Linked DNA regions of Homo sapiens. The protein of the gene in region 1 interacts with the protein of each later gene in a pairwise test. Each region holds a gene or a part of one and is shown in the gene's direction. Other genes may lie near its edges. The genes, in order: CXCR4, ATP13A2, MYH9 and DBN1.

Evidence for each region.
Region 2: the proteins of CXCR4 (region 1) and ATP13A2 interact in a two-hybrid assay, tested with the Homo sapiens proteins (one study listed by BioGRID and IntAct).
Region 3: the proteins of CXCR4 (region 1) and MYH9 interact in binary tests that used the Homo sapiens proteins (3 or more experiments, as listed by UniProt).
Region 4: the proteins of CXCR4 (region 1) and DBN1 interact in binary tests that used the Homo sapiens proteins (3 or more experiments, as listed by UniProt).

The regions. Positions count from the first base shown.
Region 1 is NC_000002.12:136,115,128-136,122,205, reverse strand, and holds the start of CXCR4 (C-X-C chemokine receptor type 4), read left to right. Parts: upstream 1-4,056; 5' UTR 4,057-4,145; coding exon 4,146-4,160; intron 4,161-4,336; exon of another isoform or gene 4,337-4,677; intron 4,678-5,232; exon of another isoform or gene 5,233-5,463; coding exon of another isoform or gene 5,464-5,730; intron 5,731-5,970; exon of another isoform or gene 5,971-6,266; coding exon of another isoform or gene 6,267-6,293; coding exon 6,294-7,078.
Region 2 is NC_000001.11:16,994,909-17,001,930, reverse strand, and holds part of ATP13A2 (polyamine-transporting ATPase 13A2), read left to right. Parts: intron 1-1,396; coding exon 1,397-1,531; intron 1,532-1,618; coding exon 1,619-1,685; intron 1,686-1,788; coding exon 1,789-1,920; intron 1,921-4,755; coding exon 4,756-4,911; intron 4,912-5,434; coding exon 5,435-5,545; intron 5,546-5,630; coding exon 5,631-5,677; intron 5,678-5,766; coding exon 5,767-5,955; intron 5,956-7,022. UniProt on the Homo sapiens protein: ATPase which acts as a lysosomal polyamine exporter with high affinity for spermine. Also stimulates cellular uptake of polyamines and protects against polyamine toxicity.
Region 3 is NC_000022.11:36,286,968-36,293,989, reverse strand, and holds part of MYH9 (myosin-9), read left to right. Parts: intron 1-126; coding exon 127-231; intron 232-508; coding exon 509-661; intron 662-1,755; coding exon 1,756-2,004; intron 2,005-4,692; coding exon 4,693-4,905; intron 4,906-5,050; coding exon 5,051-5,263; intron 5,264-5,576; coding exon 5,577-5,738; intron 5,739-7,022. UniProt on the Homo sapiens protein: Cellular myosin that appears to play a role in cytokinesis, cell shape, and specialized functions such as secretion and capping. Required for cortical actin clearance prior to oocyte exocytosis. Promotes cell motility in conjunction with S100A4.
Region 4 is NC_000005.10:177,463,613-177,470,634, reverse strand, and holds part of DBN1 (drebrin), read left to right. Parts: intron 1-1,735; coding exon 1,736-1,791; intron 1,792-2,414; coding exon 2,415-2,527; intron 2,528-2,817; coding exon 2,818-2,892; coding exon of another isoform or gene 2,893-3,007; coding exon 3,008-3,154; intron 3,155-3,302; coding exon 3,303-3,380; intron 3,381-3,572; coding exon 3,573-3,724; intron 3,725-3,799; coding exon 3,800-3,863; intron 3,864-7,022. UniProt on the Homo sapiens protein: Actin cytoskeleton-organizing protein that plays a role in the formation of cell projections. Required for actin polymerization at immunological synapses (IS) and for the recruitment of the chemokine receptor CXCR4 to IS.

The DNA.
Region 1 (7,078 bases):
TGACATTTGATACCATTGTCTCTTTGAGATTTGTAACCCTGTGTTAGAATTACTTGCGCCTTGAGAAATAGTCTCCGTTTTTGTTTTTTTTTTTTAATCACTTAGGAAAACATTAACTTTCTCTAAGTATCCCTTACTACTGTCAAGGAAGTTTGCACTTTTTTCCTCTTTCAGAAACAAAAGCGATCAATTTTTTTAGAGACAGGAGAGGGGCCAGCGAAGGAACCAGAAGACCCTGTGTATTCTGAAGGCCTTTAATGCCTCCTGCCATCCACCTCCTCCTGGCACCTCCTCCTTTCTCTAACCTCCTGCCATCCACCACTGGGAAAAGGTCTGTTCCTAAGCTTTCTGCCTAGCTAACATGAAGCCAATTTAGGGACAGAGTACAGCTTTTCATCACACACACACAGATACACACACTCACACACAAATCAACCAGCTGCAGAGCGAGCAACAGGAGGTGGCAGGATGCTTGCCACTGTGTCACTGGATTTGTAAGCATCCCCTCCAAACTGTGGCCAAGGCTAGTTATTCCCTGGGCTAAAGCCAACCTGAGAAGTTGGGGACCCTGCCAAATCCCTGACAGCCCCTAAGCCTGACTCTGTTGCCAGAGCCACACAGGAAAGTCATTCATTCTTTTAAGAAAGGTTCAGTAAAAGATTAAGGAGCCCAGTATTTGTTCAGCAATGGGCTAGCTGGATAGAGGATATCTGGGCATTCACTTTAAGGAACCTAAAATATTGGAGGGATAGGAGTATGACATATACTCATTTAAAAGTTGAGTAACATCACAAGGGATGCCACTCAAAGCAGTATGTACGTAAATGCCAAATGACCTGGGCTTCAGAGCCAGACAGACTGGGTGCAGATCCTCATTCCGGGGTCACAGGCCAGTTCCTCATCTTTCCAGACCCTAATTTCTTTACCATGTAATAAAAGTAATGGCACCTGCCTTGTAGAGTTATTGAGGGGATTATATGAGGTCAGTTGCACATAACAAGCGCTCAGTAAATGCTTGAGTTTTGTTTGTTTTTTAAAGAACATCATAGAATAGTTGAGAATAAGGTTTAGGTAGCCCAGTGGAAATAGAAGTTTAAGATTAGCCCATTGGAAAACAAGCCTTCCTTGAAAGGGGAAAGGACTATTGTGAAAAAAGTCTGACATCTTAGTAGATACTTTAGAAGTGGAAACATACATGAAGGAGGCCTTCTGATTCCCTTTTTGTCATACAATTTGTTGGCTTTTTTATGAATATGAAAATGATTCATGTCTATTACAGAAAATCTGGAAAGCATAGAAAAACCCCAGGAAGAAAGCAAAAATCAAATATAATTCTGCACCAAGGAAAACGCCTATAAACATTTTGGTTTTCCTCCCTATATTTTCCAAATGCATATTTTAACATAACTGAGATCACACTATATACACAATTCTGAATCCTGCCTTTTGCACTTAATGTTTCATAAGTATTTCCCCATGTCACTAAAAATTCTTCACAAATAACATTCGCGATGTCCATATGGAATTTCAGATGTGGATGAACCAAAATCTTGTCAACTATTCCACTAACAGTGGTTATTTAGGGATGTTCAGACATTTCACTATTTAAAAAAAAATGTTTCCACAAATACCTTTGTGGCATAAGTTTTTATGAGTGGAGTTACTGTTCTGAAGTTCCTGCTGAATAGAAAATGCTTTCCAGTGAGGCTGTCCCAAGCCACATTCCCATCAGTGACAAGCGAGAGACAGCTGGTCTTTTCAAATCCGGAGACCAAATATTATCTTTGAAAAAAAATGGATTTTTGCCTAATTTGGTAGTCACCAAATAGCATCTCATTGTTCTTTTAATTATCTGCTTCCTTTTAGTAGAGATCCCTAAAAAGATCTGAAAGGAGTCTTCAGATAAAGGAAGGAGCTTTCTTTTGTCTGTCTACAATCAACAAATATTTATTATGCAAACCATTTTGCTCCGAGTTTTCTCCTCTTTCCCTTTTTGGACAGATTTGGGAGATCTCACCTTTCAGGTTTTAGACATCGTGCAGGGAGGAGTTTTGAGGTAGGGTGCAGCTTACGGTCCAGGATAAAACATACTGATTCTGCCACTACCAGGCTTTGTGAAAAGCAAGTCATGAAAACGCTCTGAAATTCTAGACCTTCAGTAGATAGGATCTACCGTGTCTATAAAAATATGAAGATCCTTAAGTTTTATTAAAGATTCGAAAAAAGTAAAAGTGTTTTTACGGTTTTATTTTCATTTTTATTTCTTACCGTTATCGTTTATTATAAAGGATATTATAAAGGATACAGATGAAGAGATACGTAATGCAAGGCCTGTGAGAAGGGGCGTGGAGCTTCCGAAACCTCTTCCAGCCACCACCCTCCAAGAACCTGGAGTTTCTTTTTTTTTTTTTAATTCTACAAATGTAATATTAGAATTGATTTTATCTGGCCATTAGTGTGTGTCCTAACTCGTTCGTTTCTGAGAGTCCCATCTCCCGGCCCGGATATCATCTTTCCTGTGTCAGTGAAAGTGCAGAGTAGATGAGAACCTTTAACCACCAACATTAGGGAGGGGTCCCAGACAAAGGGGGAAAGTCATGCTCTGTAGAGAAAAGGTTCCCTGCCTCCGAACTACCTCTGGAACACTCCAGACTGAAATGTTTCCTCTTTTGATATAGAAAAGAGGGATCGTGTGTAGAGTGCAGTCTGGGCAATCCCTCTCCTCGGGACCATTTCGGGGTGGGGGCCTCTGGGGTCCGTGTCGCGACGCACGCGCCTCGGTCCCAGCTATCTCCGCAGCGGCCACCCCGCCTGCGGACGCAGTTTCTCGGCCCCGCCCCACACTCGCTCCCCCGCCCCACCCAGTCTCCGCGCCGGAGGGAAGTGGCGCGAGGGGGAAAGCACTGTCTGCGCGCCCACTGCAAACCTCAGCCAGTCTGAGATCGCTTTAAACGTCTGACCCCCACCCCCACTCCGCCCCGCCCAGTTCTTCAACCTAATTTCTGATTCGTGCCAAAGCTTGTCCTCTGCTCAAAATCGTGGAAGACGCCGAGTATGGGGACCGAAGACCTGGGTTCAAGCCCGGCTTGGAATCCCTGCCCATCCCTGGCATTTCATCTCTCCGGGCTTATTTGCTGGTTTCTCCGAATGCGGGCCTTGTCTGGTTCACGCTGGATCCCCAACGCCTAGAACAGTGCGTGGCACGCAGTTCGTCCTTCTATAAATATCGGACTAAATGCATCTCTGTGATGGTAATACCCACACGGTGTTGTGAGAATGAATGAGTGATTCTGTGCAAGTTCCTAGTGATCTGTTACAAAAAGTACTGGTCGCTAAATTACTCTTATAATAAAGCATACTTTTAGGATAATAAAGCACTATTCGCGAATTGGTTACCGCTATTATGAAATTACTGAGCAATACATATCTACATCTGATCAGTCTCCAGAATTATGCCAAATCCTACCTTCTTCTGAAAGTATCTCCTAATTATCTGCACCTGACCCTAGTGATGCTGTGAATGTGCAAGTATAGCTACATCCTCCGAAGGAAGGATCTTTACTCCTTTTACCTCCTGAATGGGCTGCGTCTGCTGAAAGCGCGGGGAATGGCGTTGGAAGCTTGGCCCTACTTCCAGCATTGCCGCCTACTGGTTGGGTTACTCCAGCAAGTCACTCCCCTTCCCTGGGCCTCAGTGTCTCTACTGTAGCATTCCCAGGTCTGGAATTCCATCCACTTTAGCAAGGATGGACGCGCCACAGAGAGACGCGTTCCTAGCCCGCGCTTCCCACCTGTCTTCAGGCGCATCCCGCTTCCCTCAAACTTAGGAAATGCCTCTGGGAGGTCCTGTCCGGCTCCGGACTCACTACCGACCACCCGCAAACAGCAGGGTCCCCTGGGCTTCCCAAGCCGCGCACCTCTCCGCCCCGCCCCTGCGCCCTCCTTCCTCGCGTCTGCCCCTCTCCCCCACCCCGCCTTCTCCCTCCCCGCCCCAGCGGCGCATGCGCCGCGCTCGGAGCGTGTTTTTATAAAAGTCCGGCCGCGGCCAGAAACTTCAGTTTGTTGGCTGCGGCAGCAGGTAGCAAAGTGACGCCGAGGGCCTGAGTGCTCCAGTAGCCACCGCATCTGGAGAACCAGCGGTTACCATGGAGGGGATCAGTGTAAGTCCAGTTTCAACCTGCTTTGTCATAAATGTACAAACGTTTGAACTTAGAGCGCAGCCCCTCTCCGAGCGGGCAGAAGCGGCCAGGACATTGGAGGTACCCGTACTCCAAAAAAGGGTCACCGAAAGGAGTTTTCTTGACCATGCCTATATAGTGCGGGTGGGTGGGGGGGGAGCAGGATTGGAATCTTTTTCTCTGTGAGTCGAGGAGAAACGACTGGAAAGAGCGTTCCAGTGGCTGCATGTGTCTCCCCCTTGAGTCCCGCCGCGCGCGGCGGCTTGCACGCTGTTTGCAAACGTAAGAACATTCTGTGCACAAGTGCAGAGAAGGCGTGCGCGCTGCCTCGGGACTCAGACCACCGGTCTCTTCCTTGGGGAAGCGGGGATGTCTTGGAGCGAGTTACATTGTCTGAATTTAGAGGCGGAGGGCGGCGTGCCTGGGCTGAGTTCCCAGGAGGAGATTGCGCCCGCTTTAACTTCGGGGTTAAGCGCCTGGTGACTGTTCTTGACACTGGGTGCGTGTTTGTTAAACTCTGTGCGGCCGACGGAGCTGTGCCAGTCTCCCAGCACAGTAGGCAGAGGGCGGGAGAGGCGGGTGGACCCACCGCGCCGATCCTCTGAGGGGATCGAGTGGTGGCAGCAGCTAGGAGTTGATCCGCCCGCGCGCTTTGGGTTTGAGGGGGAAAACCTTCCCGCCGTCCGAAGCGCGCCTCTTCCCCACGGCCGCGAGTGGGTCCTGCAGTTCGAGAGTTTGGGGTCGTGCAGAGGTCAGCGGAGTGGTTTGACCTCCCCTTTGACACCGCGCAGCTGCCAGCCCTGAGATTTGCGCTCCGGGGATAGGAGCGGGTACGGGGTGAGGGGCGGGGGCGGTTAAGACCGCACCTGGGCTGCCAGGTCGCCGCCGCGAAGACTGGCAGGTGCAAGTGGGGAAACCGTTTGGCTCTCTCCGAGTCCAGTTGTGATGTTTAACCGTCGGTGGTTTCCAGAAACCTTTTGAAACCCTCTTGCTAGGGAGTTTTTGGTTTCCTGCAGCGGCGCGCAATTCAAAGACGCTCGCGGCGGAGCCGCCCAGTCGCTCCCCAGCACCCTGTGGGACAGAGCCTGGCGTGTCGCCCAGCGGAGCCCCTGCAGCGCTGCTTGCGGGCGGTTGGCGTGGGTGTAGTGGGCAGCCGCGGCGGCCCGGGGCTGGACGACCCGGCCCCCCGCGTGCCCACCGCCTGGAGGCTTCCAGCTGCCCACCTCCGGCCGGGTTAACTGGATCAGTGGCGGGGTAATGGGAAGCCACCCGGGAGAGTGAGGAAATGAAACTTGGGGCGAGGACCACGGGTGCAGACCCCGTTACCTTCTCCACCCAGGAAAATGCCCCGCTCCCTAACGTCCCAAACGCGCCAAGTGATAAACACGAGGATGGCAAGAGACCCACACACCGGAGGAGCGCCCGCTTGGGGGAGGAGGTGCCGTTTGTTCATTTTCTGACACTCCCGCCCAATATACCCCAAGCACCGAAGGGCCTTCGTTTTAAGACCGCATTCTCTTTACCCACTACAAGTTGCTTGAAGCCCAGAATGGTTTGTATTTAGGCAGGCGTGGGAAAATTAAGTTTTTGCGCTTTAGGAGAATGAGTCTTTGCAACGCCCCCGCCCTCCCCCCGTGATCCTCCCTTCTCCCCTCTTCCCTCCCTGGGCGAAAAACTTCTTACAAAAAGTTAATCACTGCCCCTCCTAGCAGCACCCACCCCACCCCCCACGCCGCCTGGGAGTGGCCTCTTTGTGTGTATTTTTTTTTTCCTCCTAAGGAAGGTTTTTTTTCTTCCCTCTAGTGGGCGGGGCAGAGGAGTTAGCCAAGATGTGACTTTGAAACCCTCAGCGTCTCAGTGCCCTTTTGTTCTAAACAAAGAATTTTGTAATTGGTTCTACCAAAGAAGGATATAATGAAGTCACTATGGGAAAAGATGGGGAGGAGAGTTGTAGGATTCTACATTAATTCTCTTGTGCCCTTAGCCCACTACTTCAGAATTTCCTGAAGAAAGCAAGCCTGAATTGGTTTTTTAAATTGCTTTAAAAATTTTTTTTAACTGGGTTAATGCTTGCTGAATTGGAAGTGAATGTCCATTCCTTTGCCTCTTTTGCAGATATACACTTCAGATAACTACACCGAGGAAATGGGCTCAGGGGACTATGACTCCATGAAGGAACCCTGTTTCCGTGAAGAAAATGCTAATTTCAATAAAATCTTCCTGCCCACCATCTACTCCATCATCTTCTTAACTGGCATTGTGGGCAATGGATTGGTCATCCTGGTCATGGGTTACCAGAAGAAACTGAGAAGCATGACGGACAAGTACAGGCTGCACCTGTCAGTGGCCGACCTCCTCTTTGTCATCACGCTTCCCTTCTGGGCAGTTGATGCCGTGGCAAACTGGTACTTTGGGAACTTCCTATGCAAGGCAGTCCATGTCATCTACACAGTCAACCTCTACAGCAGTGTCCTCATCCTGGCCTTCATCAGTCTGGACCGCTACCTGGCCATCGTCCACGCCACCAACAGTCAGAGGCCAAGGAAGCTGTTGGCTGAAAAGGTGGTCTATGTTGGCGTCTGGATCCCTGCCCTCCTGCTGACTATTCCCGACTTCATCTTTGCCAACGTCAGTGAGGCAGATGACAGATATATCTGTGACCGCTTCTACCCCAATGACTTGTGGGTGGTTGTGTTCCAGTTTCAGCACATCATGGTTGGCCTTATCCTGCCTGGTATTGTCATCCTGTCCTGCTATTGCATTATCATCTCCAAGCTGTCACACTCCAAGGGCCACCAGAAGCGCAAGGCCCTCAAGACCACAGTCATCCTCATCCTGGCTTTCTTCGCCTGTTGGCTGCCTTACTACATTGGGATCAGCATCGACTCCTTCATCCTCCT
Region 2 (7,022 bases), on another chromosome or scaffold:
GCTGTCCCCTTCTCCATAGTGGATCGTCATCTCAGAACCTGCCGCAGTCAGCCTAGCCAGAGAGACCAGGTCCAGGAATTGGAGGTTCTGCCCAAGGCTTGGGTCACAGATTGGGGCCCCACTCATAGGGATTGGAGGCCAAGAGGCAAATCCACGCAGCCTGAGCATCTATGGGGTCCCCAGAGACACGCCCTAGAGCCTGGGTCCTCTCTGTGCGTCCTCCACTTTCATGCTCCCAACAGTCCCGTGGGTTGGGCCTGGGACTGCACTGTTCACACCTGAGAAATCCAAGCTTCAGTTGGAGGCTGTGACATGGCCAAGGTCACACAGGGACAAAGAGAAGCCAGTGACCTGGACACAACTAGAATAAAGTGTGAACATCCCAGCCCTCTGATCGGGGGCAGGCACCATGAAAGAGATCTTTGAGTCTGGCCCCATAGAAATCAGTCTGTCACTTAGAAGCTATGTGGTTTTTTGTTTTTTGTTTGTTGTTTTTTTTTTTGAGACAGAGTTTTGCTCTTGTTGCCCAGGCTGGAGTGCAATGGCGTGATCTCGGCTCACTGCGATGTCCACCTCCTGGGTTCAAGTGATTCTCCTGCCTGAGCCTCCTACATAGCTGGGACTACAGGCGCCTGCCACCACGCCCAGCTAATTTTTTTTTTTTTTTGTATTTTTAGTAGATACGGGGATTCACTATGTTGGCTAGGCTGGTCTCAAACTCCTGACCTCAGATGACCCACCTGCCTCGGCCTTGCAAAGTGCTGGGATTATAGGCATGAGCCACCGCACCTGGCTGGAACTATGTGGTTTTAGGCCAGTGGCTTCACCTGTCCATGCCTTGGTTTCCTCATCTGTAGAATGGAGCTAATGGTGGTACCGGCCTTGTAGAATTGTCATTGCCATTGTATGACACTTAGATAAAGCACTTGGCGTGTAGTGGGGGTTCAGTAAATACCCTTATCCTATTTATTTATTTGTTTATTTTTTTTGAGACAGGGTCTCCCTCTGTCACTCAGGCTGGAGTGCAGTGGCGCGATCTCAGCTCACTGCACCCTCCACCTCCCCAGCTTAAGTGATCCTCCCACCTCAGCCTCCTGAGTAGCTGGGAGCGTAGGCACAGGCCACCCCATCAGGCTAATTTTTGTATTTTTTGTAGATATGGGGTTTCGCCATGTTGCCCAGGCTGGTCATAAACCCTTGTCCTCTTTAGAGCGGAGAAACTGAGGGCCCTGGGGATGTCTGGTTGGGTGGGGATGGGATTGACCAGGAGAAAGGCCTGGCTCCAGTCCTTTGGCAGCCACTGGGCCCTCTGCTCCCATGGGCACAGGAGACCCAGCCTGTGGCTGGGCTGCCCTGGGGGACGCGGCCCTGACGCTGCCTCCCGCCCCTCCCCCAGGCACTGAACCCCTACTATGGGTTCCAGGCCTTCAGCATCGCGCTGTGGCTGGCTGACCACTACTACTGGTACGCCCTGTGCATCTTCCTCATTTCCTCCATCTCCATCTGCCTGTCGCTGTACAAGACCAGAAAGGTGAGTGCCATAAGGTGGGTGGGGACGGGACAGGTGGGTCCCCAGGGGCCCCCACCCACTCACGGCCCTCTTGTCCCCTGCCCACAGCAAAGCCAGACTCTAAGGGACATGGTCAAGTTGTCCATGCGGGTGTGCGTGTGCCGGCCAGGGGGAGGTGAGGAGCTAGGGCCCAGGGGGCGGGGGCAGGAGTGGGAGGGTGGGGGGGCATGGCTGGGGCTGGCCCCACCTAGCTGAGCTCCTCTCCTGCCTGCCTGCAGAGGAAGAGTGGGTGGACTCCAGTGAGCTAGTGCCCGGAGACTGCCTGGTGCTGCCCCAGGAGGGTGGGCTGATGCCCTGTGATGCCGCCCTGGTGGCCGGCGAGTGCATGGTGAATGAGAGCTCTCTGACAGGTGAGCCCCCAGCCCCTGGCCTGCAGCTTCCTTCCTCCCCTGCCATCCAACCCTTTGCCCTGCGGCAAAAGTTTTCATTTGAGTTTCCTTTTCCTTTTTTGTTTTTTTGTGAGACGGAGTTTCACTCTGTTGTCCAGGCTGGAGTGCAGTGACATGATCTCAGCTCACTGCAGCCTCCACCCCCCAGGTTCAAGTGATTCTTGTGCCTCAGCCTCCTGAGTAGCTGGGACCACAGGTGCATACCATCACGCCCAGCTAATTTTTTATTTTTAGTAGAGATGGAGTTTCACTATGTTGCCCAGGCTGGTCTTGAACTCCTGACCTCAGGTTATCTGCCCACCTCGGCCTCCCAAGGTGCTGGGATTTCAGGCGTGTGCCAGCGCTCCGCCTCCTCTTCCTTTTTCTCTCAAGCAACAATCCCAGCTTTAGGACTTGCTAACCTCACACCCCTGGGCCGTTACCACGTATCATCTCCGTGCCTCAGTTCCTTCTTCTGTAAGATGGCTGTCAGTCACTCCTCCTGGACAGAGTTGTGCAAAGTGCTTAGGAGCGTGAGAGGTGCAGCATAAATGGCCAGCCACCCAGTGCATCTGGGCTATTTCTCCTTTTTTTTTTTTTTTTTTTTTTTTTGAGATGGAGTTTCACTCTTGTTGCCCCGGCTGGAGTACCATGGTGCGATCTCAGCTCACTGCAACCTCCACCTCCTGGGTTCAAGCGATTCTCCTGCCTTAGCCACCCAAGTACCTGGGATTACAGGTGTGCGCCACCATACCCGGCTAATTTTGTATTTTTAGTTGAGATGGGGTTTCACCACGTTGGTCAGACTGGTCTTGAACTCCTGACCTCAAGTGATCTGCCCGCCCCAGCCTCCCAAAGTGCTGGGATTACAAGCATGAACCATAGCACCTGGCTGCATCTGAGCTGTTTCTATACCAGTGCCCACCTTCAGGTCATAAAGATTCCAGATGGCACAGGAGAGTGGGAAGCCCTCTCCCAGAGTGAGAGACTGCGGTCCCCATTCACTACCCCACAGTCCCCTTCCCTTCCCCTCCCCAGGGCAGCCACTGTGAAGGGTGTGAGGTGTCTTCCACGCCTTTTTCTGCATTACGTGTGTGCACATGGGCTGATTTGCCTCTCCTTTTGTTCTGAACGTGGGATTGTATGCTGTGTATTGTTCCATACTTTGCTTTTTCTCCTGGCATCCTTCCACAAGCACGGATGGCCCCACCTCATGGCTGCATGAGAGTCCACAATACGGATGTATCGTAACTGACTCAACCGGCCCGCTCGCCATGAGTATTTAGAATGTGATTTTCCAGCCATTGCAAAGGACGCCACAGGAGCAGCTTTGTCCTGTGTCTCTTGATGTGTGCAAGTATTTCTTTCTCTGAGATGTGTTATATTTTGGTGGTAGATACTGGAGAGAGTTTACTAAAAACCACAGGATAGTGGTTTTTTTCCAGGGAAGTTTTCTGGCTGGCATTGTATTTGTATCACAAATCGTAGGCCAGGCGCAGTGGCTCGCACCTGTAATCCCAACACTTTGGCAGGCAGAGGTGGGTGGATTGCCTGAGGTGAGGAGTTCGAAAACAGCCTGGAAATCATGTTGAAACCCCATCTCTACCAAAAATACAAAAAATTAGCCAGGTGTAGTGGTGCACGTCTATCGTCCCAGGTACTTGGGAGGCTGAGGTGGGAGGATCGTTTGAGCCTAGGAGGTGGAGGTTGCAGTGAGCCGAGATCGCACCACTGCACTCCAGCCTGGGTGACAGAGTAAGACTCCGTCTCAGAAAACAAAAAAAAAGTAGTAATTGTGATCAGTATGATTTGTGGGCACACGCCCTGAGCCCTGCCCTCCACAAACTGTCCACACATACTTCATCTGCTCATCTCTTGTGAGGCAGACATGGCAGGATTGTCTGACTCCCTTGCAGGAATGTGCACACAGTAGGTGCTCAATAGTCCCAGCCTGCAGGCATTCAGTAAGGGAGTGCCACTGTTTGCTAGGCAGCCTGCCCAGGACTTCACAGGGCCATGGCGAGCATGCAGTGCTTTTCTCACTCCAACTCATGGAAATATTTGCCCCCTCCATGTAAATATTTCTCTCCCCTCCCCCTCCTCCTTCCCCCTCCCCTTCCTTACCCCATCCCCTCCCCTCCCCTCCTCTTTTGAGACAGAGTTTCACTCTGTTGTCCAGGCTGGAGTGCAGTGGCACGATCTCGGCTCACTGCAACCTCCGCCTCTCTGGTTCAAGTTATTACCCTGCCTTAGCCTCCCAAGTAGCTGGGATTACAGATGCCCACCACAACACCCGGCTAATTTTTGTATTTTAGTAGAGACAGGGTTTCACCATGTTGGCCAGCCTGGTCCCGAACTCCTGGCCTCAAGTGATCTGCCCACCTCAGCCTCCCAAAGTGTTGGGATTACAGGCGTGAGCCACCGCATCTGGCCCCTTGTAAATATTTCTGTTGGTTGGAGTTAGAAAAGCACTCCATGCATGTTATAAAATAATTCCAGCAGAAAGAGAACGACTCCCCCACCCTGCCCCACTGCACACATGATGCCCACACATGCTCTGTCTGACCCACCCCCCCCCGCTGGTTCCAGGGAGCTGGCTGCCACCTGCTTCCAGGAGTGTCTCCCTGTGCCTTTATATCTCCGTCCTCTCTGAGCCTCAGTGTTCCTCTCTGTAAAATGGGGCTGTGATTTCTTGTTCACACCTGGTTACAGAGTTAACTGAGACTTAGAGCTTGTGGGACAATTCTACACAGAACTCCTGGTTTGCTGGTGGGAGGGAGGGGTGTGGAGTGGTCCTCACACCACGTTCCCCACCAGGAGAGAGCATTCCAGTGCTGAAGACGGCACTGCCGGAGGGGCTGGGGCCCTACTGTGCAGAGACACACCGGCGGCACACACTCTTCTGCGGGACCCTCATCTTGCAGGCCCGGGCCTATGTGGGACCGCACGTCCTGGCAGTGGTGACCCGCACAGGTATGAGCCGGGAGGCTGGGCTTGAGAGAGATCCCGGGCTCAGCACCCTTGGGAGAGGTGGAGTGAGGCAGGGTGGGACCTGGAACCCTGGACCCCACGCCCACCTCTGCTGCTGCCCTGCTGTGGGACCTCGGGCCAGTTGCCCCCCATCTGGGGTCTGAGCATTCCCATCTTAGCAGAAGTTGGGCCAGACTAAGGCCAAGCATTGCAAGATCTGGAGGAGCCGCCGGGGTTACAGTGCTGGAGCGGGCAGGGATGTAGCGGGCAGGCAGGAGCCTTCCCTGTGTCTGGATTTTCAGTGGAACCACCCAGTGTTTAGATGCTATCCACTAGTTCCTTGTTTAAAGCCCTTAAAAAGCCTACAAGAGCCGGGCCAGACCTGTTAGGACTCCACACTGCTGATGGCTAATTTCACAAACATCATGTCTTGCAACTCCAGAGGCACGGGTCGGGAGGGCTAGGGGTGGGGAAGGCCTGCCCTCACCCTGGCTTCCCTGCCTTGGGGTCCCCGCCTCCTCCCCAGGGTTCTGCACGGCAAAAGGGGGCCTGGTGAGCTCCATCTTGCACCCCCGGCCCATCAACTTCAAGTTCTATAAACACAGCATGAAGTTTGTGGCTGCCCTCTCTGTCCTGGGTGAGTGGCCCCCTGCACCCTCCTCTGCCCATAGCCCCCCCCACCTGGGTCCCAAATCCCACTCAGTCCTTCGCTGTCCCCACAGCTCTCCTCGGCACCATCTACAGCATCTTCATCCTCTACCGAAACCGGGTAAGCCTTGGGGGTGGGGTGGGGGGTGCTGCCAGCAGGGCCCAGGGGCCAACCAGCCAGGTGCTCACATTCATGGTGCCCCCTGCCAGGTGCCTCTGAATGAGATTGTAATCCGGGCTCTCGACCTGGTGACCGTGGTGGTGCCACCTGCCCTGCCTGCTGCCATGACTGTGTGCACGCTCTACGCCCAGAGCCGACTGCGGAGACAGGGCATTTTCTGCATCCACCCACTGCGCATCAACCTGGGGGGCAAGCTGCAGCTGGTGTGTTTCGACAAGGTGGGGCCGCAGGTGGGGTTGGTGCAGGGGAGCGGGACAGCCACAGGCGCCCCAGTGAGGCCTCCACACCCGCGTTATTCTCTCAGCAGCACCCACAGGATGCCAGGTCCTGTCTAGGGATGGAAACCCCCAGAGGATCCACCCCATCCCACTCCTGCCCTCACTGGGCTCACGGTCTGGCAGATGAAATGTCTAGAATCATGTATTCATGTGTTCAAGAACTGGTGGGGGGCCGGGCGCGGTGGCTCACGTCTGTAATCCCAGCACTTTGGGAGGCTGAGGCAGATACATCACTTGAGGTCAGGAGTTCAAGACCAGCCTGACCAACATGGCAAAACCCCGTCTACTAAAAATACAAAAGTTAGCCAGGCATGATGGCACATGCTTGTAATCCCAGCTACTCGGGAGGCTGAGGCAGGAGAATCGCAGAGGTTGCAGTGAGCCAAGATCATGCCATTGTACTCCAGCCTGGGTGACAGAGCAAAACTCAAAAAAAAAAAAAAATTACTGGTGGGGACCTGGGGCCCTAGTGTGCATCCCGTGCTGCTCCCAACCCTTGGGGCCCAGCAGTGACCAACACAGGCATCCTTGTGGTCACTGGAGTGTGTGTGTCCCCCACCAAAGTAAGTGATCCAGGAGTGCACAAAGGAGCTGCTGGGGCTGAGGAGTGGGCAGTGGGTTTTAGGAAGGAAGCCAGTGGGATAGCTTGATGGGTTCTAGATGGGGACACTTCCTTAGAGAGAAGGCAGTCAAGGAAGCCCCCTGAGCAGGTCCCTCAGTGACCTCAGTGAGGGGCAGGTCGAGGAGAAGCAAGGGTAAAAGGTGGGAGTGTCATAGCACAGATGTACCGTGTGCCTGGGGCACAGGGAGTGGCGTGGCACAGATGTGCTGCGTACCTGAGCACAGGGAGTGGTGGAGCAGGACAGGGCCGGGTAGGCAGTGGCCTGGTTGACAGAGGCTAGGTGACATTCAGAGGCTGTCGGGGGCCACAGAGCGCTTTTAAACTGGGGAGGGGGCCCAGCGCAGTGGCTCATGCCTGGAATCCCGGCACTTCGGGAGGCCGAGGC
Region 3 (7,022 bases), on another chromosome or scaffold:
AACTGGCTCCTCAGACCCTCATGGTTCAGCTTGTGACTCAGGTCCAGCTTTACCTAAAGGAGATGAGGTGGGGCAGGAGCAGTGGGGGTGGGTCCATGGTCCTTTGTGTCTCCCCGCCCGGTGCAGGTGGAGCTGGACAACGTGACCGGGCTTCTCAGCCAGTCCGACAGCAAGTCCAGCAAGCTCACCAAGGACTTCTCCGCGCTGGAGTCCCAGCTGCAGGACACTCAGGTAGGGGTGGCGCCAGGTTCCCAGAAGGTGGACCCCTCCAGAAAGGCCTCTGTGTCCACGCAACATTAGCTTCAGAGCCCATCGGATTGCCCATCCTCTCCTTCATCTGCTTCATCCTGTGGGTGGGTCTCTGCGTCCTCCCAGCTCCCTCCAGGTCTTTACGTGGCCATCCCCTAAATCAGCAGGACCAGCTCCTCCCTCTCCTCAAGGGTGTGGGGTTCCTGGGTTTTGGACACCACCCTCCTAAGCACCCGCACCCCTCTCAACCCGCGAGTAGGAGCTGCTGCAGGAGGAGAACCGGCAGAAGCTGAGCCTGAGCACCAAGCTCAAGCAGGTGGAGGACGAGAAGAATTCCTTCCGGGAGCAGCTGGAGGAGGAGGAGGAGGCCAAGCACAACCTGGAGAAGCAGATCGCCACCCTCCATGCCCAGGTTTGGAGGCCTGGGGGACCGGCCGGACTCTGCAGGCTGGGGAGCTGCTGGCCGGGCACTGGCCTGGGCACTGCAGGACAGCCCTGCCCGCTGGGCCGGCCCATTGCTGCTCTCCCCCTGGGAAGCCAACCGTGCTCTCCCACATCAGTGCTCTCAAGGAAAGGAATCCAGGGATCTGTGGACTTAGATGGGGGACACCACTATTTTCACTATTTTACACCTTTATTTTCACCAGTCTTTAGCTGAAATTCAGCATTGCTTCCATTATGGATGTAGGCAGCAAGCCATGGTGGTGGCAGTCCCTGTGCCGTCATCATCTGTAGAAATGGCCAGTTACCCTGTCAGGGTTGTGGCCGAGCTCCTTGGCCTCATGGGTCCCAGGCCTGCGCTGTTTGTTATCTGATGTGCTATCTAGCAGCACGTGGCTTCCTGAGCCATGGTTTTTTAGAATGTGTGACAACTGCATTTTTCTGTACTGGTTGCCCTGCTGATCCCATGTTTATTTCATGCCTGTTACAACATTGTCATGAGAAGGAGTCCCTTGGCCTCTCTAGACTGCGAAGGGGTCCGTAGCCTAATATGGTTTCAGAGCCCCTGCTCTAGATCCTATCTTGGGCCTCCATGTGCCAGGCCAGAAGGCCTGAACCACCTCGGGATGGGCTGGGAGTCCATTCCACAGTCAGGGTAGGAGTAGCCCGCGAGCGTGCCTGATTGTGGGTTTATCTCCAAGTGCAAGGATGGGGCTGGGTGATGGGGACCCCGTGGACACCCTACAGGGCACTGGCCCTGCTCTCTGGGAGCAGTCTCCGTAGAGCAAGAGGCTTGGTGTGGATGTGGGCTGGGAGCCCCCACAGCGGGCCTGGGGGTCAGCCTCCCCCGGGCTTCACACAGTAGACAGATGCCCCTTTGCAGAAGCTCCATTTGTCTCGCCCCTGTGGAGAGGGAAGTGACTGGGGGAGGCGGTTTCATAACTGGGCAGATCCCTGGTGCCCCTTCCACGGTGTGGCAGGCAGGCTCCCAGCTGCCCCAGGGACGGGTGTGCCACCTGAGCAGGTGCCATCTCGGGCATCTGCTTACTCCTTGCTCCTGCCCAGGTGGCCGACATGAAAAAGAAGATGGAGGACAGTGTGGGGTGCCTGGAAACTGCTGAGGAGGTGAAGAGGAAGCTCCAGAAGGACCTGGAGGGCCTGAGCCAGCGGCACGAGGAGAAGGTGGCCGCCTACGACAAGCTGGAGAAGACCAAGACGCGGCTGCAGCAGGAGCTGGACGACCTGCTGGTGGACCTGGACCACCAGCGCCAGAGCGCGTGCAACCTGGAGAAGAAGCAGAAGAAGTTTGACCAGGTGTGTGGCCGTTGGCCCCATCCTTTGCATTTCCTCTCCTTCAAGCACTGAGTCCAAAGCAAAGGGCCCATCAGAGAAAGCCTGGGCTCCCTCAGGGTCTCGCCGGGGAGGGGCCGTGCGGGGCCAGTGCTTAGAGGACCCTCAGGCTCTGGCTTGTTGAGGGTCCCAGGGAGAAGGCCAGCGGAAGAGGGCGTCTTCATGCGATGGGTTGAGGAGTGACTTTTCCTTTCTGATTTTTTACATTTTTCAGATTTTCTCTAATGAACTGGTTTGACTGTCTTTTTTTTTTTTTTTTTTTTTTTAATTTTTTTATTGATCATTCTTGGGTGTTTCTCGCAGAGGGGGATTTGGCAGGGTCATAGGACAATAGTGGAGGGAAGGTCAGCAGATAAACAAGTGAACAAAGGTCTCCGGTTTTCCTAGGCAGAGGACCCTTTGGCCTTCCGCAGTGTTTGTGTCCCTGGGTACTTGAGATTAGGGAGTGGTGATGACTCTTAAGAGCATGCTGCCTTCAAGCATCTGTTTAACAAAGCACATCTTGCACCGCCCTTAATCCATTTAACCCTGAGTGGACACAGCACATGTTTCAGAGAGCACAGGGTTGGGGGTAAGGTCACAGATCAACAAGATCCCAAGGCAGAAGAATTTTTCTTGTACACAACAAAATGAAAAGTCTCCCATGTATACTTCTTTCTACACAGACACGGCAACCATCCGATTTCTCAATCTTTTCCCCACCTTTCCCCCCTTTCTATTCCACAAAACCGCCATTGTCATCATGGCCCGCTATCAATGAGCTGTTGGGTACACCTCCCAGACGGGGTGGTGGCCTGGCAGAGGGGCTCCTCACTAACCAGTAGGGGCGGCCGGGCAGAGGCGCCCCTCACCTCCCGGACGGGGCGGCTGGCCTGGCGGGGGGCTGACCCCCCCACCTCCCTCCCGGATGGGGTGGCTGCCGGGCGGAGACGCTCCTCACTTCCCAGACGGGGTGGCCGCCGGGCGGAGGGGCTCCTCACCTCTCAGACGGGGCGGCTGCAGGGCGGAGGGGCTCCTCACCTCTCAGACGGGGCGGTTGCCAGGCAGAGGGTCTCCTCACTTCTCAGACGGGGCGGCCGGGCAGAGATGCTCCTCACCTCCCAGACGGGGTCGCCACTGGGCAGAGGCACTCCTCACATCCCAGACGGGGCGGCGGGGCAGAGGCGCTCCCCACATCTCAGACGATGGGCGGCCGGGCAGAGACGCTCCTCACTTCCTAGATGTGATGGCGGCCGGGAAGAGGCGCTCCTCACCTCCTAGATGGGATGGCGGCCGGGCAGAGACACCCCTCACCTTCCAGACTGGGCAGCCAGGCAGAGGGGCTCCTCACATCCCAGACGATGGGCGGCCAGGCAGAGACGCTCCTCACTTCCCAGATGGGGTGGCGGCCGGGAAGAGGCTGCAATCTTGGCATTTTGGGAGGCCAAGGCAGGCGGCTGGGAGGTGGAGGCTGTAGCAAGCCGAGATCACGCCACTGCACTCCAGCCTGGGCTCCATTGAGCACTGAGTTAAAATCACTTTAATTATCATTATATCATTACATTATTATAATTATTTAATTATAGTTTGGGTTTTTTTAAAATAGTTTGGGTTTTTTTTTTTTTTTTTTTTGGAGACTGTCTCTGTCTGTTGCCCAGGCTGGGGTGCCGTGGTGCAACCACAGCTCAAGTGATCCTCCCACATCAGCTTCCTGAGTGGCTGGGACCACAGGCGTGCACCACCACCACACCCAGCTAATTTTTAGATGTTTTTCATAGTGACAGGGATCTCACCATATCGCCCAGGCTGGTCTCAAACTCCTGCGGTTTGACTGTCTTTTAAACGATTTATTTATGCATTCATATCACTTCCTTATTCCAAAAGATCTGAGAGCAGCTGAGGGGGATGTGGACTCGGGGGCAGGATAGAACAGTAGAAGACATCGGGCAGCCAACTGTGGTAGCCGGATCCGGCCCCTGCATTTTGTAGGGAACGATAGACTGAACACAGCCACGCTCCATGGTTCTCATGTTGTCTCTGGTTGCTTTGTGCTGTGGTAGTGGGGTTGAGCCATTGCTGCAGAGACTGTAGGGCCTGCATACTCTAAAGAATGCACTATCTGGCCCTTTAGGAAATGGTCAGCAACCCATGGGATAATTAAGGTTTGGGCCAAAAGGAAGGGAAGGTGGGGAAATAGGATAGAGCCAGGTGGGTGCACACAGAGAACAGATGCCAGGGGACAGCAGCTGTCATTAGAGAAGACCACAAATGGGGTTCAGGCTTCTTGGCAGCCAGCTTGGCATTCACTTCGTGAAAAGTGCCAACCAAATGCCAGCTGTGGTTCAGGAGAACCAAAGCTCTTACAGGTTTGGAGGGCTCTCATGGAAGGGGCAGCGTGCCATAAAGGGTTGCGATTAGTAAGTGATGAAAATTAAACAGACGTTACAACATGGTGTTCGCAGTAGTGCCTGCTCCAGTCGGCAGTCATCCCATCATGAGGATGCACGGGACTGTGTGTATTGTCCTGGGCACAGCCCTGGGCCTGTGCTTCCTAGGCCTGCTCCTCTCCACCGTGGCCTCTGGGCTCCTCCTTCCCCAGGGAGCTTAGGCCCAGCTGCCCTGCCCTGCTGGGGGCCGTAGCTCTGAGCCTCATGGTGCCCACCTCTTTCCCAGCTCCTGGCGGAGGAGAAGACCATCTCTGCCAAGTATGCAGAGGAGCGCGACCGGGCTGAGGCGGAGGCCCGAGAGAAGGAGACCAAGGCTCTGTCGCTGGCCCGGGCCCTGGAGGAAGCCATGGAGCAGAAGGCGGAGCTGGAGCGGCTCAACAAGCAGTTCCGCACGGAGATGGAGGACCTTATGAGCTCCAAGGATGATGTGGGCAAGAGTGTGAGTCCTGGGCCTGGCAGCCAGGTCTTGGGAAGGGCCCGAGTGGGGTCATCACAGAGGGTCGGTGTGTGCACAGACTCCGGGTCGCGCAGACCCAGGTACCTGCCAGTCCCTTTGCTCCTGACTTGGGCTCTCTGGGGCTCAGGTCCACGAGCTGGAGAAGTCCAAGCGGGCCCTAGAGCAGCAGGTGGAGGAGATGAAGACGCAGCTGGAAGAGCTGGAGGACGAGCTGCAGGCCACCGAAGATGCCAAGCTGCGGTTGGAGGTCAACCTGCAGGCCATGAAGGCCCAGTTCGAGCGGGACCTGCAGGGCCGGGACGAGCAGAGCGAGGAGAAGAAGAAGCAGCTGGTCAGACAGGTGTGCATGGCCTCCTGCTACCCCATGGGTGCCCAAGGCTGCCTTGGCTTCACGCAGGCTTCTGTTCTCTCCTTCCACCTGGATTGTGTTAGGGCCCCTTGACCACGCCTCCCCTCCCATATTCCTTCTTTCTAGCCTCCTGTCTCGGGGTTCAGTGACTCACTTTCTTAGAGTTCTTATGGTCAGTAATCCCCACTGGTTTCCCGAGGCCCCATGGATCCTGCAGAACTGGCCTGAGGCTCCTGAGTTCAGAGCTAGGGCAGGGTCTCCCAGTGGGTCCAGCTTCCCAAGTTGTTGATGTTCCTTCCCCCAGGTGCGGGAGATGGAGGCAGAGCTGGAGGACGAGAGGAAGCAGCGCTCGATGGCAGTGGCCGCCCGGAAGAAGCTGGAGATGGACCTGAAGGACCTGGAGGCGCACATCGACTCGGCCAACAAGAACCGGGACGAAGCCATCAAACAGCTGCGGAAGCTGCAGGTAAGGGTGGGCGGGGCCCAGGTGAGGGTGGGCGGCACCCGACTGAGCCAACTACATATGAAGGTGCCAGGGCTCGGCCCAGGGCGGGAACCTGGCAGGGTGGCACCTCCTGGGAAGGTCCTGGGTGCTTCCAGCCCCATCTCACTGACAGAGACTCAGAGGCTCAGAGGTGAGTGGAAACATGATAGTCCAACAGCAAACTTGCAAAACGGTGTATGACTGGGTACATAAAACACAGAAGCAAACAAGTACAAGCCTAGACATGGGTGGAGTTCAAGAAGGTCTCACTTAATGCAGACTTCCAGAATCACCCGGGTCCTGACACCCTTCAGCCTTCTGGGCTCTGGGGCGATGGTTCCAAGAAGCAGCCCGGAGTGTGGGACACATACTTGGAAATCTTCACCTCACTAATAATTAAAGAATAATTAACACGTAAAAACAGCTCTGATACGCCATATCATGTAACAAGAATAACCTTAGTTTAACAAATTTTTTTTTGTTTGTTTGTTTGAGACGGAGTCTCGCTCTGTCGCTCAGGCTGGAGTGCAGTGGCATGATCTCGGCTTGCTGCAAGCTCCGCCTCCCGGGTTCACGCCATTCTCCTGCCTCAGCCTCCCCAGCAGCTGGGACTACAGGCGCACGCCGCCACGCCCGGCTAATTTTTGTATTTTTAGTAGAGACGGGGTTTCACCATGTTAGCCAGGATGGTCTCAATCTCCTGACCTTGTGATCCACCCGCCTCGGCCTCCCAAAGTGCTGGGATTACAAGCATGAGCCACTGCGCCCGGCCAAAAAAAAAATGTTAAGTGTAAAAAAAAAACCCACAAAAACTTTAAAACTTCATTGTGGTCAAGGTTGTGGGCATAGATGCTCTGATTGCTGGTGGCATTTTTTTACTGGTGTGGTCGGGCTGCACACAGCCAGTCACTCTCTTTGATTTGGGGAATCTCAATTTCGGATTTATCTGCAAAAGGAAAAAAAGGCTATTTGACAAAGGTCTTTAGTGTTAAAAGAAGTAACAGGAGAATAACAAAAGGAAAGGTGTTTCCTGCCTGTGGTGGGGATGGACCGGCAGGCTGGGCACTGGTTTTGAGTGGCAGGTGCGCATTAGGGGTGGCACCATGGGCACTGGCTTCCGGCCCACAGGAGGGGACAGAAAGTAGAAAATGAAGCTCAGCTTGGGCTCACGTCCACGGTGACGAACACTGTCAAAGTGTGCATTACGGGGTGGGATACACAGATGATTGTCTTTAGTTGCCTTTTTGCCCTGTCACCACGGTTAGT
Region 4 (7,022 bases), on another chromosome or scaffold:
GCAGAGGCTTCAGGGTGAGCCCTGTCCAGAACCCTGCTTGGGTCAGGGAGCCGTCCAGTGTGTCCCAAGTGTGTGGTGTGGACAGGGTGGTCCAATGGAAAGGCAGGCTGGAGGGTTTGAACTGGGGTATGGTTTCTGCTGGGGGAGAGCTGCGGCTGGAGCAGGAAGAGGTGGCCGGAGGTGGGGAGCCAGGGGCTGAGGATGGAAGGCACCCCGGGGAGCCTAGGCAGGCCAAGACAGGTCCTCTCAGAGGGAGGCTTGATGTCTACAGCAGTCTCTAGGAACTAGGGTCCCTGGGCTCTGCATTAGTTTCTCATCAGTGCATGGAGAGAGACAGAGCCTGCTTCTCCCAGGGCCCTTTGTTCCCGTGGTGGGTTAGGGCAGCAGGACAGGTGGTGGGCCAGCTGTGCTGGAAGCATCTGTCAGGGCCAGGCTGGGGCTGGGGGTAACAGTTGGACCAGGAGCTCCCAGCCCCACAGCCCACCTGTGTTCCTTCCTGGAGGTAGGAAGCCGGGAATCCAGGAAGGGGAGGGGCTGAGGCCATTTGGCCCTGGCCACAACCTCCTGAGACGTCCCCTCCATCCCTCCCGCCTTCATTTCCTTTGTCCCTTCACTTCTGTCCTTTCTCTTCTTCCTCCTCTCCTGGTTTCTCCCTCTGCTTCTCCCCTCCTCTTTCTCTTCTCCCTTGCCCTCCCTTTCTGCCTCCCCTCCTCACAGCCCCAGCCTCCTGCCTTGGCACCTGGGGAATAGGAGTTTGGAGAAGGGGTTGAGAGCCCTTTCAAACTTCAGGGACAAGGCCCTTCCTCCTAGGCCCCGGCTCTCCTCCCTCCCAGAGGGTCCTCAGCCTGGGCCTGCATGGGGTGATGGAGGAGGCATCTCTGCCTTCCCTTCTGTGCAATGGTTGCTCTGTCACCGCAGCCTATCAAAAGGAGCCAGGGCACACAAAGCTAGGGAGGAGGAGGAAGGAGGAAGGCCACCAGGTCAGCTTTCTGTTAGAGCTCAGACAGAAGGAAAGGCCAGCAGTCTCAGGAAGCCTCAGCCAGGACTGAGGCAGCCTAGGGGCTGGAAGGCCTGGAGCTCAGGCTTGGCCACCCCGGGGCCAGAGTCTGGGCGAGAGTGACTGCAGTGACCTCATCCCCATTTCAGAGAGGCGGAGATTGAGGCTGAGGGCGGGTCCCCAGGGTCCTTTGTGTTCAAGGAGAATGCAGTTGGGGTGGGCCAGTCGTGTGCCAATTGCAGGGTTGCCATGGTTACTGGGGGATGCCCAGAGCTGTTGGGAGCACCAGGTTCTCTCTTCTCCTCCTCCCTCCCCGGGGGAGGGGCAGCGGGGACCAAGGCACGTGCCAGGTAAGTTCCTGGCACTAGCCAATGGGGGATGAGGATCCTGGTAGCCAGGGAACGGTAACCAAGGAACCGTCGCCTTGGAATCTCCATCACACACCCGCTCCACTGGGTTGTAGGCTGCCAGGGCCAGGGCCGGGATGCTGCGCACTGAGCTCGACCAGCCAGCAATTTCTCCCCTCACTGCCTGCGCCCCCCTGACCCAGGCCTCCAGCAGTACCCTGCTGGGCTCCCGCCTGAACCGATGCCTGGCCCTGTTGTCATGGCTACAGCAGGAGCCCTCCCCGTTCCTGTCCTACCCACTCCATGTCCCTCTCCCTCCCCAGAGCCGTCCCCACCCAGAATTGGCGGCCTGGGCCCTGACAGTTTGACAGCCACCCCTCCCTCTCCCCAGGGCTCTGTACACATATGAAGATGGCTCCGATGACCTCAAGCTTGCAGCATCAGGAGGTAGGAATTCCAGCCATTCCCTCGCCGCCTTCTCCACCCCCTCCTCCTGGTTGTTTTCTTCCCCACCCACCTGGCTGTAGGCCACCTCCCTGCCTGCACCCTGCAGCCCCACACTTGTCTGGATCTGGCGGGTGTCCTTCCTCCAGTCATCCCTGTGTCCCCAGGGTGGGGAGGAATCTCAGAGCCTTGTTGAATGTTGGACTTCTGAGGCTGAGCCTCCAACAGGGAAAGTGACTTATCTGAAGCCACACAGCTGGGACACTTTGGGGGAAGGGCCCTATTCACCGCCTTCCCCAGAGCCAGAAGGCTTGATTGTGCCTCTGGGCACTGGCACCTGGTGAGACATGATGATGTGTGAAGAATGAGACCTGAGTGTGAAGAACAAACACTTCCTCAGTCCTACCCCCAAATCAGGCCCTGCAGGAGTCACAGGCAAAGCTACATCCCTGTGCGCCACCACCCCCACACATACCAACACAAAACTGGGACCCACAGACCCCAGAGGCCAGAAGACCCCTGGGGGTGCCTGTGGAGGCCTGGAGGAGTCTTTGCTTTGAGTTCCAGGCTCTTTTTGGGAAGGGTTTAGGAGGCAGAGAGACCTGACACTCTCCTGATTACCCTAGAAGGGGGCTTGCAGGAGCTTTCGGGACACTTTGAGAACCAGAAGGTGATGTACGGCTTCTGCAGTGTCAAGGACTCCCAAGCTGCTCTGCCAAAATACGTGCTCATCAACTGGGTATGCGGCCGGGGCTGGGGAAGGGGGCTGAGGGCCCAGAGCTGCTCATCAACTGGGTATGCGGCCGGGGCTGGGGAAGGGGGCTGAGGGCCCAGAGCTGCTCATCAACTGGGTATGCGGCCGGGGCTGGGGAAGGGAACTGAAGGCCCAGAGCAGTCGCCCTCCCCGTCGGCCCTCTGACACCCGTGGAGAGGGAAGCCCACCCTCTTCCCACCCCGGGGAAGATGCACCCTATCGTGTAGGGCCCCCCTTGTCCTTTCCTGACCCCCTCTTTGCTGGGTACTTTGCAGGTGGGCGAAGATGTGCCTGATGCCCGCAAGTGCGCTTGTGCCAGCCACGTGGCTAAGGTGGCGGAGTTCTTCCAGGTGCGTGTCAGGGGCCAGCGCTCTTGGGGGTGGGGACAGCCACCAGGGTCTGCGTGCTGGGGTGGGGATGGCGGGAGGATGGTGCCGCCTGAGCACTGCCGTCTTCTTGCGGAAGGGTGTCGACGTGATCGTGAACGCCAGCAGCGTGGAAGACATAGACGCGGGTGCCATCGGGCAGCGGCTCTCTAACGGGCTGGCGCGACTCTCCAGCCCTGTGCTGCACCGACTGCGGCTGCGAGAGGATGAGAACGCAGAGCCCGTGGTTAGTGTGTGTTTGGCACCCGTGGGCTCTGCCTGCGTGGCCTGGTGCCCGAGTCTGGCCTGCCCGGTCCCTCTTAGCTCTCACCCTTTAGGTGTCGGGGGTTCCTGGGGCATTCAGCCTGCTTATGCTGGGTCCTTCGACACTGCAGGGCACCACCTACCAGAAGACGGATGCAGCTGTGGAAATGAAGCGGATTAACCGAGAGCAGTTCTGGGAGCAGGCCAAGGTATGGAACCCTGAGCCCGGCCTGGCTGAGCCACCCCTCATGGACCCCATGGGGCAGGTCTGAGTCCCTCACTGCAGTGGCATGGCCCATGCCACGTGCCCCGCCCCCAGCGCTGGGTTAGGGAGGGGCTGGAGGGGCAGGGTCCAGGCGCCTAGGCTCGGGGCCTACCCTTGTTCGCACCGGGGCTTGCAGAAGGAAGAAGAGCTGCGGAAGGAGGAGGAGCGGAAGAAGGCCCTGGATGAGAGGCTCAGGTTCGAGCAGGAGCGGATGGAGCAGGAGCGGCAGGAGCAAGAGGAGCGCGAGCGGCGCTACCGGGAGCGGGAGCAGCAGATCGAGGAGCACAGGTGAGCCTGCCCGCCCGGAGCGCTCCAGGGGCCCCCGGGCGCACCCTGACGGGTGCTGGCTGCTTATCGTTCCAGGAGGAAACAGCAGACTTTAGAAGCGGAAGAGGCCAAGAGGCGGTTGAAGGAGCAGTCTATCTTTGTAAGTTCTTTGCCAAGGCTCCCGGTCTCTGGGTCAGGGAAGTGAGAATGGTCCCTGTGTTCCTGGGCCTTGTGGGGAGATCAGTGGCTCAGGGACAGTGGTGGCTGTTCTGGGGAGCTGCATGGGCACAGGGTGCCATGGAGCATGAGGCCTGGCACCTCATCACGTGGGGCTCTGGCCTCTGGCCGTGGAAAAAGACTACTTTGGAGAAGCTTGTGCTCTAGATTGGAAGAGAAACTCCATCTAGACCCAGACCCTCACTGACCAGGCTCCCCCTCCCCTGCCCTGGGGTTTCTCGGCGATTAGACACTGTTCTGCACTCTGAGGGGCCACAGGAGTGAGGCAGGCGGCATGGGTGAGCCTGGGCCAGTGCTGAGCATCTGCAGGCAGTGTGTACCATCTCCTTGGGAGCAGCATCTCCCTGGGAGCAGCCCCTTTGTTCCAGGGGTACTGTCTGAATCTCCACACATTGGGAATGGCCCGTAGGTCCTGTGGATTGGTCCCTGAGAATCACAGCAGAGTCACATCTCCATGCTTTGAATTTAGTATTTTGGAAATAGCTAATGTCATTCAGGACTGAGCATGGCTCAGTTCAGGAAGGGAGGTGGGTTGATACTCATCTGGATTGGGACTGTAATGGGCAGATGCATGGCTGTGGGGACTCAAACGGGCTCCGGAGTCACCCACAGGAGGCTGAGAGAGAGGAGGCAAGACAGTCCTGCAGGCAGCAGCATTAAGTCACTCCAGTCACATCTGCCCTTGGATGGGGTGGGGATGATGTGTGGCTGGTAAGCTCCATCCTCAGTCATTCATTCAACACACACCTGCCACCTGCCACATAAAGAACATGGTGGAGAACGAGCTGGGTAAGATCTTTTTTTCATAAGTTGATTCATGTATTTTTTTTTTTTTTTTTTGAGATGGAGTCTCACTCTGTCGCCCAGGGTAGAATGCAATGGCGTGATCTTGGCTCACTGCAACCTCCATCTCCCAGGTTCAAGCGATTCTCCCGCCTCAGCCTCCTGAGTAGCTGGGATTACAGGCGCACACCATCATGCCTAGCTAATTTTTGTGTTTTTGTAGAGACTGGGTTTCACCATGTTGGCCAGGATGGTCTTGAACTCCTGACCTCGGTTGATCTGCCCGCCTCGGCCTCCCAAAGTGCTGGGATTATAGACGTGAGCCACCGCGCCTGGCCACATGTATGTAACTGTGGCAAAATACATAAAATGTACCATTTCAGTCATTTTAAAATCTGCATTTCATTAAGCGGCATTAAATTCATTCACATTGTAGGATAACCACCACCACCATCCATTAAACACAAATTCTGCCCTTCCCCACTCGCCAGCTCCTGGCAACGACCATTCCACTTTCTGTCTCTATGAAGTTGACTACTCTGGAGACTGCCTATCAGTGGAATCGCACGGTGTTTGTCCTTTTGCGTGTGGCTTATTTCACTTAGCATGATGTCCTTAAGATTCATCCATGTTGTAGCATGCATCAGAATTTCCTTCTTTTTGAAGGCTGAATCATATTCCATTGTATGGATATACCACATTTTATTTATCCTTTCAGAGTGAGGTTTTTTAAAATTTTTTTATTTTTTAAATTTTTTTGAGACGGAATCTCGCTCTGTCGCCCAGGCCGGAGTGCAGTGGCGCCATCTCAGCTCACTGCCAGCTCCGCCTCCCAGGTTCACACCATTCTCCTGCCTCAGCCTCCAAGTAGCTGGGACTACAGGTGCCCGCCACCACGTCCGGCTAATTTTTTGTATTTTTAGTAGAGACGGGGTTTCACCATGTTAGCCAGGGTGGTCTCGATCTCCTGACCTCATGATCTGCCCACCTCAGCCACCCAAAGTGCTGGGATTACAGGCGTGAGCCACTGCACCCGGCCTGCCTCCCAGGTTTAAGTGATTTTCCTGCCTCAGCCTCCCAAGTAGCTGGGATTACAGGCGCCCACCACCACGCCTGGCTAATTTTTGTATTTTTAGTAGAGATGGGGTTTCACCATGTTGGCCAAGCTGATCTTGAACTCCTGACCTCAGGTGATCCACCCGCCGGCCTCACAAAGTGCCGGGATTACAGGCATGAGCCACCGCACCCAGCAGATAAAGTTTATTATTTATTTATTTATTTATTTATTTATTTATTTATTTATTTATTGTCTTTTTAGTAGAGATGGGGTTTCACCATGTTGGCCAGGATGGTCTCGATCTCTTAACCTCATGATCTGCCCTCCTCGGCCTCCCAAAGTGCTGGAATTACAGGTGTGAGCCACCTCACCCAGCCAAGTTTATTTATTTATTTATTTTTATTTTTTTGAGACAGAGTCTTGCTCTGTCGCCCAGGCTGGAGTGCAATGGCACAATCTCAGCTCACTGCAACCTCTGCCTCCTGGGTTCAAGCGATTCTCTTGCCTCAGCCTCCTGAGTAGCTGGGATTACAGGCGTGCACCACCATGCCCAGCTAATTTTTGTATTTTTAGTAGAGACAGGGTTTCACCGTGTTGGTCAGGCTGGTCTCGAACTCCTGACCTCGTGATCCACCTGTCTCGGCCTCCCAAAGTCCTGGAATTACAGGCGTGAGCCACCGCACCCTGCCTGATAAAGTTTATTTATTTATTTATTTATTTTTATTTATTTATCTTTTTTAAGATGAAGTCTCACTCTTGTCCCCCAGGCTAGAGTGCAATGGCGCCATCTCAGCTCACTGCAACCTCTGCCTCCTGGGTTCAAGCGATTCTCCTGCCTCAGCCTCCCAAGTAGCTGGGATTACAGGTGCACGGCTCCATGCCCGGCTAATGTTTGTATTTTTAGTAGAGACAGGGTTTCACCATGTTGGCCAGGCTGGTCTCAAACTCCTGACCTCAGGTGATCCTCCCACCTCGGCCTCCCAAAGTGCACTGCACCCAGCCCTGATAAAGTTTATTTTTTTGCTAACATTTCAAACATACACACATGCAGGTAGACAGAATAGTGTTGTGAACCCCCTGAGCTGATTTATTTTCACCAGTTATCAACATTTCAGGTAAAGTCTGAAGGAGCTTACCATTATTTTATAGTCCCATCTGGCCCTTCAAGTATAGTTCACGTGAGAGTGACAGTGGACATTCTAGCAGGTCAGTGTGGTACCCTTTCAATTTCAGGTCCTCTAA